Linked DNA regions of Homo sapiens: region 2 is linked to region 1. Evidence: fine-mapped expression QTL. Tissue or cell type: whole blood. Region 1 holds a variant in brackets; the other region holds the start of a gene. All regions are shown on one strand. Distances are from middle to middle.

Evidence for each region. PIP is the estimated chance that this variant, and not a neighbour inherited with it, causes the effect.
Region 2: SLAMF1 starts here. The variant in region 1 is fine-mapped to the expression of SLAMF1 in whole blood (TOPMed, PIP 0.91).

What each region holds. Positions count from the first base shown.
Region 1 is chr1:160,610,831-160,618,942 of GRCh38, forward strand. SLAMF1 (signaling lymphocytic activation molecule family member 1) reads right to left here. Exons shown (of 7, transcript NM_003037.5): 6 at 1,658-1,750. Among named protein-coding and RNA genes, the nearest start is that of SLAMF1, 32 kb to the right of the region's middle. The variant C/T (reference allele first, on the strand shown) is at 3,922.
Region 2 is chr1:160,643,766-160,651,877 of GRCh38, forward strand. SLAMF1 (signaling lymphocytic activation molecule family member 1) reads right to left here and starts at 3,279. Exons shown (of 7, transcript NM_003037.5): 1 at 3,105-3,279. The coding sequence starts at 3,180. LOC107985220 (a long non-coding RNA gene) reads left to right here and starts at 3,244. Exons shown (of 2, transcript XR_001738266.2): 1 at 3,244-3,570; 2 at 3,708-8,112. RefSeq lists enhancers at 3,111-3,320, 3,361-3,410.

The DNA of each region.
Region 1 (8,112 bases):
GACTGGATACTCACTTCACAGAATGCAAATGAAAACAGCACTGCTGAGGAAAAGGAAAGGGTCTTAGAGATCATGGCTTGTGCAGGGTCTGTCACAGACAGGGCCTTGCTGGGACAGCACTTGGGTTCCCACACTGCTTCTCCACCTGCAACAAGGGCCACAGCTCCCTTCCAAGCATAAGCATGCTATTATGGGGAGCATGATCTGAGGACCAGCACTCAGTGCCCTGTCTCCCTCTTTGCCCTCTCCCCTTCCATCCCCTTGTAAGGAAAACCATTTGTTTTGCTGTTACATATGGGTCACAATCTGGGAAGCCAAGAGAGTTGTAAATTATTGAGTTTTTAAAAAGTCTAGTGGGACTCAAAGGGAGAAGAGAAAAGTGGTATTGGCAGGAGAGAGGAAGGGGAGAAGAGGGTTATGCGCAAAGATCTCTCATGTCAAAGAAACAAAGAAAATAGAATTTAAGGGTTTTGCCATAAAATGTTAACTATAGCATACTGTTTTTGTCCTTAAGTAAACTTCATTAAAAATCTATGTATTTTTTTGAAGCTTTGAAGTCAGGTTTATATTTTTACTTCCTTCTTAGATATGACAGTGAAGTGAGAATGGACCTCAAGTTGAAGATTGGTTTCATCTTGAAATATAGGGCACCTGCCCAGGCATTTCTGGATGAGTGTGTGTGCGGTAGGAGCTTTGAAAAATAAGGTGGATGCAGGCATTTGTGTGACCTTTGTGCCTCTATCATCCTGGGCTCTCTTCTGAAAGAGCCCAAATGGAGCAAAGATTTCAGCCCAGAATTTATTTCTATTCATTCAGTAAAGGAAAGATTCCTGTCCGAAGTAAACTTAGTCCCTGCTGATCTTGCAATAGGGTAGAATATGCAAGTATCATTTTGAGCTGCACCCCATATTCTCTTCTAGGCTTAACACCTATGCAGATCTCCACCCCTAAATATTCTGATTAAATGGGGCTGCACAGAGTCTAGGCATGAGCATTTTTACAATGCTTCCCTGGTGATTCTGTTTTGTAGCTGGAGTTGAGAACTCCTGGACTCCAGCTGCTGTTCTTAAACTTGAGTGTGTATCAGAATTACCTGGGGTGTGGGTTTTTTAAATACGTAGGTCTATGGCTACTCTCCATAGACATTTTCATTTAACAGAATCCTAGGTGGAAGTCCCTAGGAATCTTTATTTTTAACAAGTACGCTGGCTGATTCTGATGTGGTCCTTGGACAACTCTCAGGGAAACACTGGCCAGCAGGGGGTTAGCAGTGGCCCCGTGTGAGCAGGTATTGGGGGCTTCATGGAAACTGGAAAACCAAAGCCACAGAGACTCCTTTTTGCCTGCATGCTGTGGCCTCCCTTCCCCAGTCCAGGACTCATCAATCTGTTTCATTTAATTTGTTTTTGTTTTAATTTTTTTTTTTTTACTTTTATTTTAAGTTCAGGCGTACATGTGCTGGTTTGTTACATAGGTAAACTTGTGTCATGAGGATTTGTTATACACAGTATTTTGTCACCTAGGTATGAAGCCTAGTGCCCAATAGCTATTTTCCCTGATCCTCTCCCTCTTCCCACCTTAAAAAAAAAAAACTTCCTCATTTTCCCCTCCTTCATGTATTCCCTCTCTACGGAGAGTAGGCAGAGAGATGCCTCACCTGGACAGACTCTGGGACAGGCTCTGTGGCAGCAACATATATGGTGGTGCAAGGGTCCTGAGCTGGGAAGGAGTCAAGTTTCTTCTGAAGAGGCTACAAGAGAAGCAAAGAAAGCAGATTAGCTGAACAGAGAGAGCTAGTTCTCACCCAACTCTCCGATAGAGAAGCACAGACTCAAGAAGACTTGAGGCAGAAAGTTCCTTCCAGTCATTTGGTCCAACCTCCTTCTCAGGTGGGAATTCTCCCCCAAATTCTCTGGAACTCAATTCCCCAGGCTTTGCTTGGACTCCCCAAGTGGCGTCTTGGGGTGCACAACCTCCCAAGGCAGCCTCATCCATTGTCAGTGCTTCTCAAATGTTTTAAATGTCTTCCTCACAAGAAACTGAAATTGGTGTGGCTCTTACAGGGGCAGCTGGAGGGGACAGAATAGCAACAGAATTTAGTCCGTCTCACTCATATCACCGGCTACATGCAGAATTCTTGCATCCCACACTGCCATTCCTACTCTTCCTCCTCCTCACATATGTCTTCTCATTTGCCTCACAACCACTCTGTGTTAAATACTGTTGTTACTCACACTTCACCGATGATGAAGCTACAGCTCAGAAAGACCAAATGTTTTCCTAATGTGTACAAGCAAGAAGTGTCAAAGCCGGGAGTCCCCTGCCTTAAGCTCTTTTAACTTAAGGTGCATGTCCTTTCTATCACTATTCTTTTTTGGTCACTCAACTTATAATGACCTATCCCTTACTTAAATTCCTCAGGTATTTAAAGTCTAATTTACACTTTATGGCACTCTATGCTATATTTAAAACATTCTGATATATTTATGTGTTGTTTCTCCAGTCTATACATTCCTTGAGAAATAAGCCATATATTTTTGTACTCCCCACAGAACAGTATTGGACACATAAAAATAAACTCTTCAGCTGATATTTGTTGATGTTACTTTGAACGAATTAAAATCCACAATTCCTGGACAAAGACCTCAAAATAAATTGAGACCACATCCTTGTAAGATGCGGATGCCATCACTTACAATAGGGAAGTCATTAATTCAACACATTTTGGGGACACTGGTTATGGGATAATGCTGCTGTCCACTCTCCCTGGGTATAGAGCCAGACTTGAAGCCACACCACATGTGTTTTAATGCGAGAAAACTTGGAATTTTGTCATGTGATGGAAGGGTTAAGGAATTAGGAAAGTTTATTGGAGGAAAAAGGGATGGGACATAATTTTTCTCTTCATATATTTGATGAATTGCCATATAGAAAAGGAATTCAATTTGCCTATAAAGTATCTCAGGTTTAAACCAAGATTAGGATTTGGGGAAAATATTTTGATTCAATATAATGAAGATCTTTCTAATGGTAAAAGATGTTCAAATGTGGGATGAATTGCCTTGGCAGGCAATGAGCTCCTATAGTTATAAGTGCTTGGGCATGGTCTAGACCAGTGCTGCTGACTTTTATTATGCATATGAATTACTTGGGGATCTTGTTAAAGGGTTGATTCTATTTCGGAAGATCTGGAGCAGGGCCTGATTCTGCATTTCTAATAAAGTCCCAGGTGATGCTGATGCTGCTTGTTCACAAACTATATTTCAGTAAAAAGGAGCTAGGCAACACTTTGGAAGTAATGTTGTAGCAGATAATTCAAGCAGTAATTGGGTGGTTCAGATAGATGGCTTTCAAGATCCCATACAATTCTTAAATACATTTTGAAGAAATTTTGAGTTTAAGAAAGAATTTCTTGCAGTGATGAGATAAAGAGGCTATCAAAACAGTTTATTAAGAGACCTTTGGCCGGGCGTGGTGGCTCACGCCTGTAATCCCAGCACTTTGGGAGGCTGAGGTGGGTGGATCACGAGGTCAGGAGATCGAGACCATCCTGGCCAACATAGTGAAACCCCATCTCTACTAAAAATACAAAAATTAGCCAGGAATGATGGTGCATGCCCGTAATCCCAGCTACTCAGGAGGCGGAGGCAGGAGAATCCCTTGAACCAGGGAGCTGGAGGTTGCAGTGAGCTGAGATGGCGCCACAGCACTCTAGCCTGGCGACAGAGTGAGACTCCGCATCACCAAAAAAAAAAAAAAAAGAAGAGAGACCTTTATCAACAGATGCAACCTCTGCTGGTCTTCCTGTTTGGGAGAACTTTAGCATAACCTGACCTAGAGGCAGAAGGAGGCAAATAACTTACATTTTTAACATTAATTCAGAAGTTTTAGAAAGGAGAAAAATATGTAAAAGAAGTCACC[C/T]ATAGTCCTATTAAGACTCTGTGTGTGCTTAAATGTTCACTTCAGGATTTTTATCCAGGCATAGGGAATTATTTTAAACATAAATATAATAAGTTAGTATATTTTTGTATCTTATTATCTTCTGTTAGGACCACTGATTTGTACATCTTTAGGGAGCATCATTTACAAGCAACTCCAGAGGCATTATTTTCACATAATTTTTGTGAATGGTGGCCGCTGGAATTAATTCTGCAAGATACTAGCTCTGATAAGTCCTAGAAGAGTTCCTAGCACACAGTAAACACTTGTTTAGTGATTTTCATGTTATTATATTCTTTATAAGATTATTTTATAGCCATTAAAAATAAGAATAAAGGCATTGTTAGTTTTTAAATAATTGTCTACATTATTACAGTCTTTATATTGATATAATAAAGACATCGCAAATATGAACAAAGAAAATTGTGAAAATGTGGGTAAGTCTAAGTATATATTTATATATATAAAACAATAATAATTATGTCTTGTGTGTTTAAAATATATATGAAATTCAAATAATGACAAAACGGTCACTTAAATCAAGAGGTGAAATTATTGTGGACTTGAAGTATTATGCAGGAGGGAAGTAAACCTTAGACTTTGGTAAGTCAAAGTTGTATTTTATAATTTCTAGGGTAGCCACTAAAAAGACTGAAAAAAGTTGTTCACTAATATGTAGAGGAGAAAATTTAATAATAAAAATATAACTTAAAAAAATTTCCACCAAAGAAACCCCAGTCTCAGATAGCTTTACTAGCAATTTGCTCTACTAGCAAATATTTAAGGGGAGAAATAAGACATCCTACCCAAATATCGCAGAGAATAACAAAAAGGAAATGCACCCTGTGGTGGGTTGAACTGTGGCCCCAAAAGATATGTCCAGGCAGAATGTCAAAATGTGACTTTATTTGAATAAAGGTCTTCACAGATGTCAAGATAAGGATTTCAAAATAAGGTCATCCTGGATTAGAATAAGTCCGAAGTCTGATGATGACTGTCCTTATAAGAGATGGAAAAGAAGAAGACACAGAGAGGGAGGTCATGTGAAGATGAAGGCAAAAATTGCAGATACACAACTACAAGCCAACAAATGCCACGGAGAGCCTGGAGCCACCAGATGCTGGAAGAGGCAAAGAGGATTTTCTCCTAAAGCCTCCAGATGGAGTGTGGCCCTGAGGATGTGCCTCCTTGATTTTGGACTTCTGACCTCCAGAACTGTTAGAGAATAAATTTCTGTTGTTTTAAGCCACCAAGTTTCCAGTAATTTGTTAAGGCATCCCTAGGAAACTAACATATACCCCAACTCCTTATGTGAATTAGCATAAATCTTTATATCAAAACCCCACTGGTTGGGCATGACTACCCAGGTCCCTTCCAGTTCTTAAAGTCTGAATTTTTAACAGGAGAGCGACCAACTTTACCGTGATGTGGGTATTAGGTAGAGTAGCTGTGTGTCATTTTGGGATCAATCTGAGGCTTGTGATTAAAGAAGAGTCCAGGAAGAACTCTGTTACTTATTTTTTTAAGGACATTTGAAATATTTCTACCTCAACTTGTATCCCAGTTAGATATATTCACAAGAATGCTATATACCAGCCACTGCAGTGCCTTCTTAAAAAAAAAAAGGCATTATACAAGAGAATTACAGGCCAATTTCACTCAGAAACATAAGTGGAAAACCAAACTCTTAACAAAATATTAGCAAATAAAATCCAGTAATGCTTAAAAAGGACTAGACTAAATTGGTCTACAACAAAATTAAGACCTTCTCTTTATCAGTAGGTATCTCTGAGAAATTCCAAAGGCAAGCTACAGATGGGTGAAGGTATTTGCTAACATATCTGCCAAAGGGCACATATCCAAAATATATGAAAAGCATATACTAGTCCATAAAAGAAAGACTAAACCTCAAAGGGAAATGGGCAAGAGATTAAATGGGCACTTTAAGAAAGAATTTTAATATGGCCAATAAACATATGAAAAGTTGTTCAACTTCCTTAATAATTACAGAGATGTGGAATAAAAGCATAATAAGACACATCCAACAGTAGGACTAAAATTAGACTGTTAATACCAAGTTTTCATTAGAATGCATAGCAATTGAGGCCAGGAGTGGTGGCTCATGCCTGTAATCCCAGCACTTTGGGATGCTGAGGCGGGCAGATCTCCTGAGATCAGGAGTTCGAGACCACCCTGGCCAACATGGTGAAATACTGTCTCTACTAAAAATACAACAATGAGCCAGGTGTGGTGGTGCGTACCTGTAATCCCAGCTGCTTGGGAGGCCGAGACAGGAGAATGGCTTGAACCCAGGAGGCGGAGGTTGCAGTAAGACAAGATCACGCCACTGCACCCCAGCCTAGGCAACAGAGTGAAACTCTGTCTCAAAAAAAAATTTAAAAAAAAAAGGCATAGCAATTGAGACTCTCATATGTAGCTGATAGAAAAGTAAATGGATACGCCCACTTTGAAAAACAGCTCGGCCTTATCTAGTCAATTTGGAGGTATGCATACTCTACGATTCAGCAGTTCTACTTCCAGGTATATCTAGGTATATACCCAAAAAAATATGTGCACATGTCCACTTAACGACTTGCATATGAATGTTCACAGCTGCAACTTTCATAATAGCCTCAAACTGGAAATAACCCACATGTCCATCAATAGTCAACTGGATAAATAAACTCTAGTATATTCATACGTTTATATTCTATGAAGCAATGAAAAAGAATGCATTATATCTAAATTCAAAGACATATATGAATCTCATAAAGATAATACTGAGCAAAATAAATCAGACATGAGAGAAAAAAGAATAAAGAATTCAATTTTTATAAAGTTCAAAAATAAAAAAGGAAAAAGCTAACCTATTTTTCTAGAAGTCAGGATAGTGGTTATCTTTGGGGAGGAGAGAGGAAGTAATGATTGGGAAGTGGCACAGGAGGCCTTCAGGAAGTACGGGCAATGTTCTAGTCTTTGATCTGAGTGGTAGTTTTATGGTATTAGAAGACTCAATACTGAGGCCAGGCACAGTGGCTCACATCTGTAATCCCAGCACTTTGGGAGGCTGAGGTGGGCAGATCACTTGAGGTTAGTAGTTTGAGACCAGCCTGGCCAACATGGTGAAACCCCATCTCTACTAAAGATACAAAAATTAGCTGGGTGTGGTGGCAGGTGCCTGTAATCTCAGCTACTTGGAAGGCTGAGGCAGGAGAATCACTTGAACCCAGGAGGCGGAGGTTGTAGTGAGCCCAGATCACACCACTGCACTCCAGCCTGGGCGATAAAGCAAGACTCTGTCAAAAAACAAAAAACAAAAAACAAAAAACACGCAACACTGAAAAATGTAATTTCTCCTCATATAGATCTGTAGACTCAATACAATTCTAATATTTTTTTTTCTTTTTGTGGTACTTGATAAGTTGATTCTAAAATACATATGAAAGTATAAAGGAACAAGAATAGCCAAAAACTTTTGCAGAAAAACAAATTAGGAAGACTTGCTTTACCAAATATCGAGATATGTGTTTAAGGGTAACTCACTGAGCTGACATTAATGTGTTGTGTATTTTTTTGGTCAGAGTTGATCCTTACTGAGGAGTGGGTATGCATGAGTGTGTGTATGTGAGAGTGAGTGTGTGTGTGTGTGTGTGTAAAATGGAGGAGAGGACTAAAAGTGTGATTAGAAGCAGCTGGAAGTAGCAGAGGAGGTGGAAGTTAGTCCCCTCGAGTGTTTGCAAAGTAAGACATGCCTGCCCAGCACTCTCCTAGGTGTATAGTGGCTACAAATAGAGTAGAGAACAGACTCCAGTCCTCAAAGACTTTCAGTCTTGCAGGTCAGCTCAGACTCAAATGTAGAACTGGGAGGACAGTCCTGAACTGATGAATGCCACTGAATTTTAAATTTTATTTAATTCAAATTAATTTAAATTTAAAAAGCTACATGTGGCTAGTGACTACCATATGTCATGCTTCACAGTAAAAAAGAGGGATGCTAGCAGCATAGGATAGAGTAGTGAGGGAAGACACTATGGTCAAGGTGAACCTGGTTACCTAAACAGGCAGATGAGAGCGTGGGGTGAAAGGGTTACTCTTGGGATTCTCATCTATTTAAATGGAGTTTAGTTGGGGGAAGGATGGAGCTGGGTTGTGTAATAAGCCCTCCAGGCCACT
Region 2 (8,112 bases), 33 kb after region 1:
ATTTGAATTATTCTCTTCCAGTTATTTTGATATGTACAATAGATTATTGTTAACTATAGTCACCGTACTGATCTATCAAACACGAAGACCTATACATTTGGAAAGACACACAAGAAACTGGTCACAGTGGTTGCCTCCAGCATGAGGTATGGAAGGGAAATTAGTCTTCACTAAATACTCTTGTGTACTGTTGAAGTTTCATAGACATGACATGTTTTATAGATGTGATAATCAATAAACAAACTAGTTAACAAAAAAAAATTAAATGAACATTTGCATGATGAAAAAAAGTTTTCATTTTCCAAATTCCAGGTCAAATACTTCTTATATGCCCTCTACGTTCTTCTGTGATTTTTATCAGTCTCTCACCTTTTGGACATTTCTATACTTCAATTTATTCCAATTCAATTCAACTCATATTTTTCAATTATAGATAGCACATTCTAATTTTTACCATGGGACCTGGATACAAATTTTGGCATTCTCTCCACCCCTGCTTCCCAAACATAGGCTTGTCCAGTTTTACTCATTGAGGCCTCTGGAGTCAGGCAGCTATGTGAGCGCAGAGAAATTGCTAAACTACTCTGTGCCCCTTTCCTCATTTATAAAGTTGTAATGGTACCAATAATACATACATTTCTTATAGGGTTGGTGTGAAAATGAAATGACTGACACACATAAAGCATTTAGAACAGTGCCTGGTATATGGCAAGTATGCAGTATATACCAGTATTATTCACTCAACAAATATTTGTGGACAGGCTCTCAGTACAGACACAGTGTCAGGTGCTGGGCAGTGGCTGTTGTTCATTTTGTTTTCCCCACACCTTGCACCCTTGCACAGTGGCTGCCACATCATGTGTCCTTAATAGTTGCTGAATGGGATCATTCAAAGTCAAATCTATGGATTAAACCAATTAGCCCTGATACTCTGATTTCCAGTCCAGTGAGGGAGACAGTGAAAGTGACAGCATCACATCACAGTATTAATATTTTTGAGAAATAGAAGTGCCTAGATTGACATCTTGGGATAGAATGGGCCACTGAACACGCAAGGTTAGGCCAAGTCTAGAACCCACGCACTTGTCCCTCACCTTCCCCCAAAGTGTGTGAAGGGGGTGCAGAGGAACTGCATGGAGGAATAAAAAAAACTCATTGACATAAGGTCATCAATTATAACAAATGTACCATCCTGGTGGGGGATATTGATAATAGGGGAGGCTATGTATGTATGGGGCAGAGGGCATATGGGAAATCTCTGTTCTTTCTGCCCAACTTTGCTGTGAACCTAAAACTGCTCTAAAAAATAAAGTCTATTAAAACAAATCTCATCGGGGGAAATGAAAAATTCACTTTACTTGGGGAAGGGACATGTGGACTTTTTGATTTTTACAATTCTGACTGGGAATTAGAAGTTGAGCTGAGTAGAAATGAGAATGGGAGTGGATGCCAGTTTTACAAGAATCAAGCTTCTTGCTTGGGCAAATCTGTCATGACTAACCTGCCCCATTTGCAAAGCATTTCTGTCTGGGTTTTATTGGGGCTTCACAAAAGGGTGTGTATTTAAAAATAAAAACACTGAAAAACTTTTGTGAAGATTCAAAGAAGAAAACATGCAATGAAGTGAGCAGCCTCCGATTGGATAGACTTGCCTTGTGGGGCTGGGTTGCTTCTCCCTGACCGGCGACTTCCAAAGCCTCAATAAGACGAGCTATTGGTCAGCAGTGCCTAAGATGCTATGGGCCAGGCTGGCCAAGAGGCTAGCAAGCACAGAGATGGAAAAGTCCAGTTCACAGTTCAGCACCATCACTCCATCACACCTTACAGTCACCAAGAGGTGCTCCAGAAATGGTGCAGTCACAAATTGGTTGCAACAACGGAGGCTTGGCTTTCCCTGTGACCACTTAAAGTGGCTCGATTTGGTTTTCTGAGCCCCGAGCTCAGTTCTTCCTCCCCTAGACCTTGGGAAGTACGAGCCATGGATCTGCAGATTCCAAAAGAAAGTGGGCTGAGCAAGCCCTGTTCGTCTGGCTGTCTGGTAAAAGACACATCCATTGTGCAGCACCCCCACATCCCTGGCATATCACGGTGCTTTTCCTGGAAAAGTCCATATTGGATTTGCGGTCTTGAAAACCCCAAGCTTAAAACACCCTGGGCCTCAGGATTTCCCCCCGTGTCCGTAATGCCACCTCTTCTACTCCAGGCTACCTCCCACAGTCTAAACAAATAAGCAGAAGGAGATTCTCACCCCACTCACACAGGCAGTCCAAAGTCCACTTCTTGCTTGGCTTTTTCTTTCTCAAATACCTTTTCTCATAGCCCTGATACTTCTAAACAGAAAGCAATAGCCTGCCTTGGGAAGAAGATAGACAGAAAGACAGGAACAGAGTCCAGATCCAAAGGTAGCTCTTGTCTGGCCTTCCTGCTGGAGCTACTCTCTGAGGGTTCCCAATTTGCATTTCCCACATACTGTAACCAGCCCTAGCCTTCAGAAATCCCAACTTCTTCCCTCTTGCTTTCTTGGACCTTCTCTTCCAAGAAAATACACACCAGTATGACCGCACTGTGGCCACTGCTGGTTCTCAGCCAAAAGCCTGGAGTTTTCACTTCTACTCTCTCTTCCCACTCTAGCCAATGCTTTCTGTTGACCCATGCTCCTGGTTTGTCAGCCTGCATGTGCACAGATTCCCTCCCAGGGCAGGGATGTAGGGCAAATCTTCTCCCAGAGCTCAGTCCATCCAGCTCAGTCTCTCTAGGCTGGGTCTTTGCCAGAAGATGCCCATGTAAAACCAACCACTCAAGCAAGACTTCTACCAGGGCCTGTCACCCTAAGACTGGTCAGAAAAGTGACTGGAGCCTTTGGCTTAGAGCCCCTCATTTCCTTGGAAACTGGGGTTGGTGGGGCTGAGTCTTGGAAACCCAAGGGCCCAGGAACTTATAATGTTCCTTCCTCTTTGAAAGAGGCAGTTGAAACTGACAGCCAGTCCCTAAGGAAGAGTGACCAAACACAATACCCAGCCCTGCACCTTCTCTCCATCCACGAAGATACGCTGATTCCTGGCAGCTAACATGGGACTCAAACCATCAGGCAGATGAACACTCACCTGTTCCGTAGCTTGCCCCAAAAGCCAGGGAGAGAAACAGCACGAAGGTCAAGGAGAGGAGCCCCTTGGGATCCATCAGCCAATGAGGAGAAGGAAGGGATCCTGGCCGGAGCCTGGCAGCTGCTCACAGATGCCAGGCAGAAGCAAGCTTCGTGTCATGCAGCAGAGGCTGTCTGATTTATGTATCAGGAACCAGCAGGTTCCTGAACCCGCTTCCTGTATCACTGGGACTTTTTCTGCTTGTGTCTTGAGGATTGCTCATCTCCCATGAGGCTTTAAATCACTTTTTTGTTCTCAAGAAGCAGGCTTCTCAAGAAGCCAGGCACTTAGCCTATGGGAGCCAGGAAAGGGGGTGTGTAGTCACCTCGGCCAAAACCCGGCTTTGGGCAGAAACATGCGCCCCAGCTTCTTTCCTTAGCTGTCTCCAGGAACCGGATGTTGCAGATTCTCTGAGCAGTTCTCTCCGGTAAGTCTTCTTGGATTGCAAAGAAAAGATGTTTCATTGGATCACTCCTCAAATTTGGCAGTTCACAGCTGAACTTAGATAACTGCATTTTGATGAGCTAATAGACCTCTTACTTCTGTTTTATTTCATAATTTCAGATGACACCTCAACATGCAGTCTGGTGCAGGTGCCACTGTCACACAGAGATGGGAAGGGCATGTGCGGGTCACTTGGAAGAAACCCTGTGACCCCGATGAGTGCAATGTGGTATAATTTAGTAGCCCATGCTCCTAGTTTGTCTTCTTGCATGTGTGTGGATTCCCTCCCAGGCAGGGATGTAGGACAAATCTATCCCAGAGCTCCATCCTTCCAGCTCAGTCTCCTTGTTGTGTGTGTGTTTTCTCCTCTAATTTTTAACGTCTGTGGGTACATAGTAGATATACATATATGTGTGTGTGTGTGTGTGTGTGTGTGTGTGTGTGTGTGTGTGTGTATGTATATATATATGTATGGGGTATGCATATATTTGTATGGGGTATATGAGATATGTTGATAGAGGCATGCAATATGTAATAATCACACAGGGTAAATGGGATATCCATCACCTCAAATATTTATCCTTTGTGTTACAAACAGTGCAATTATATTTTTATTTTTAAATGTGCAATTAAATTATTATTGACTATAGTCACACTGTTGTATTATCAAATACTAGTTCTTATTCATTCTTTCTATTTTTTTGTACCCATTAACCATCCCCACTTCTTCCCCAACCCCCACTACCCTTCAGCCTCTGGTAACCATCCTTCTACTCTCTATGCCCACAAGTTCAATTGTTTTAATTTTTACCTCTCACAAGCAAGTGAGAACGTGCAAAGTTTGTCTGTCTGTGCCTGGCTTATTTCACGTAACATAATGATCTTCAATTCCATCCATGTCATTGTGAATGACAGGATCTAATTCTTTTTTAGCTGAATAGTACTTCATTGTGTATATGTACCACATTTTCTTTATCCACTCATCGGTGATAGACGCTTAGGTCGCTTCCAACCTTGGCTATTGTGAATAGTGCTGTAATAAACATGGGAGTACAGATATCTCTTCAATATACTGATTTCTTTTCTTTTAGGTGTATACCTACCAGTGAGATTGTGGATCATATGGTAGCTCTATTTTTAGTTTTTTGAGGAACCTTCAAACCATTCTCCACAGTGGTTGTACTAACTTATATTCCCAACAACAGTGTACAAGGGTACTTTTTCTCCACATCCTTGTCAGCATTTGTTATTACCTGTCTTTTGGATAAAAGCCATTTTAATTTAATTGGGGCTGTGTTGTATTCTGGGAGTTGCCTTTATTTTGGAGTTTGTGTCTAACTTTTCATTGAGGAGAAGGAACTAGTATTGGCAGAAGGAGGATCCCGCCCTTTTTCATGAGTTAAACTATAAGAATGGGATACTGGAAGTGTAACCAATGCTCACAGGGAGACTTGAAAGAGTAGGGAAGTGTTTTTAGAGTCCATTGTAACAGGTCATAGGCACTCTCTGATGGGCCTCCCCATGGGGATCAGGTAATAAAAGCTGGTGAGATATGTGAACTTTATCCTCACTGTTTTCTTCCTTCCTTTCCCCAGCACTCAACTGTCCTCCTCACAACTATTCCCAGTGGTGTGTGCTCGAGTCAGCATGTACCAACTCATAAAATTGTTAAATTTTCAGGAATCTGGATGGGCACAGTGGCACGCCTGTAACCCCACCATTTGTGGAGGCCTAGGTGGGAGAATTTTTGAGGCCAAGAGTTTGAAAATAGTCTGGGCGATAGAGTGAGACCTCATGTCTACAAACAATTTTTTTTAATAAAAATAAAAAATAGATTTTCAGGAATCTTGTGAGGTGCTTGATGAACATGGCCATTATTAAACATATAAAATTAAATTAAATTATATAAACTTACAGTTAAGCTGGGCATGGTGGTACATGCCTGTAGTCCCAGGTACTTGAGAGGCTGAAGCATGAGGACCCCTTGAGCCCAAGAGTTTGAGGCTGTAGTATCTTTATAGCAGTGTGAAAACGGACTATCATGATCATGCCTGTTGGTGTGGTTTGCCGCTGTGTCCCCACCCAAATTTTATCTCGAATTGTAATCCCCATAATCCCCAAGTGTTGAGAAAGGGACAAGGTGGGAGGTGATTGGATCATGGGGGCAGTTTCCCCTCCATGCCGGTCTTAAGACAGTGAGTGAGTTCTCACAAGATTGGATGGTTTTATAAGGCAGTATTTTCTGCTCTTGGCTGCTCTTCTCTCTCCTACTGTGATGTGAAGAAGGTCCTTGCTTCTCCTTTGCCTTCCACCATGATTGTAAGTTTCCTGGGGCCTCCTTAGCCATGTGGAACTGCAAGTCGATTAAACCTTTTTCCTTTATAAATTACCCAGTCTTGGGTAGTATCTTTATAGCAGTGTGAGAGTGGACTAATACACCTGTAAATAGCCGCTGCACTCCAGCCTGGGCAACAGAGCAAAACCCTGCCTTTAAAAAAAACTTCACAACTAAATAAATTATATTAAATAGAGGGAATAAAATCTCAAAGCTCATTGTTTCTTAATTATTTTATGACATTACTGATATCTATGTTCTTGAGGTAATTGACATCTCTTATGTGTCTACAGTGGAAATTAAATACTGGAACATTGGTGCTTCTGGACCTCTCTTCCCCACTCTGCATTCAATGGCATAGTGTTGGGAGCTTGAAACTGGCCATGGTGAGAGTTTATGCCATGGAAATCAGCAAGCAATATAAATCAGAACTTTACTGTTTTGTTGATTGTCTAAATGTAAGAAAGTAATAGAGAAAACATAATGATGCAGAGTAAACTTAAACATGTGCCATGACTATGGCCCTTACATTAGGATTAGCATAAAAAATTGAGGAAACATTTTTCCAGTATTCAAAAACTATCATCTGATTCAGCAAAAAGTCACTAGTGTCACTGATGAGCAAGTGATGTTCCAACATATGTTTTTGTTGTTTCACATTTCTTTAACTTCAAAAAAGACATTAACCAACATTCATGTTGGAACTACATTCCTTTGTCACTTGTAAACACAGTTTGGCTGTGGATATGAATTAAGCCAATATGAAAGCAAACAGCCTGTGAGATCTGTGGCTATATGGAATTTACAATAAAGAGGATTGTACATTTTATTAAAATACAATAAATTTTATTTTATAAATTGCGTGTTACACATTCTTCGTATAAGCAAAATTTATAACAAGCTCATTTACATATATGCATATATTATTTTTCAGAGATCTGGCTCTTAACCATTTACCAACACACCACTGTTACAATAACTGAGAATCCAAATGGTGGAGTGAATGGCATACTGTCTACGTATTCATAAAATATCAGTTGAAATAACTAAATGATGTGAGAATATTGGCATCCTGTAAAAATGGGAAACCAATGATCCAGGTCTGATTTCAAGACTGGTGTTCTCTCCTCAAGCTGCACGGCTCCTGGAATGCATGCTGTCTATTCATGTCAAACCTTCCTCTCTCAAAGACAGACACTTATTCTCTTGTTTACTTTGCCCTTCCTCTCATTTCCAGAATTAGACCTTCTCTAGACTCGCTATGAGGCCTCTCCACTCTGATCTCCTGGATCCCCTCTACACAGATAACTGAGCTAATGCTAGGCACTATATGAAGAGTTTTCCTGTTTGGTGCAATCTAGAACTAAATAAAAACATACATTGAATGAGGGTCAGAAATGGTTTAGATGAAGGTTCTGAGGTTCTAGAGTGGATTCTATATAGAGTCCTCTCTGCCCCCAAATTCTTCTTCACCTGGAACGTCAGAATGTGGACTTATTTGGAATCAGGATCTTTCAGATGTAATTAAGGTAAGAATTGAGATGAGATTATACTGGGTGAATCAGAGTGATCCCCAAATCCAATGAGAGTAGTGCATCTTTCTAAGAAATAGAAAAAGGACACACAGAGACACAAAGAAGATGGCCATGTGAAAAGACAAAGCAGAGACTAGAGCTATGCAGCCACAATTCAACGAACACCAGAGACCACCAGACGCTGGAAGAGGCAGAGAAAGATTCTCCCCTTGAGCTTTCAGAAGGAGCAGGTCTTGCCAATATGTTAATTTTAGACCTTGTGCCTACAGAACGGTGGGAGAATGAATTTCTGTTGTTTTAAGTCATCAGGCTTGTGATAATTTTTTACAGCAGCCACAGGAAACTAATACAGGACCTGAGGGGCAATGTGACTAACCAGAGATTTGCAGTTAGTACATTTAGTATACTGAGCTGCTTCCTTGAGCTATTAAGAGCAGATGTCAACAGACCAACAACAGAAGATATACAGGTGATAGTGCCTTGTAGTTACAAAGCCATTTTCAAAAGCCTTCACATTCACAGCCTTATTTGATCCTCCTAACAGCCCTGCAAAGGAGCTGGTGGTGTTTGTAAGGCAGGATCTGGACCAAACTTGGGAATCCTGACACTGATCAGAGCTCTTTCCTTTTTCCTGGTGAGTATCACCATGAATACT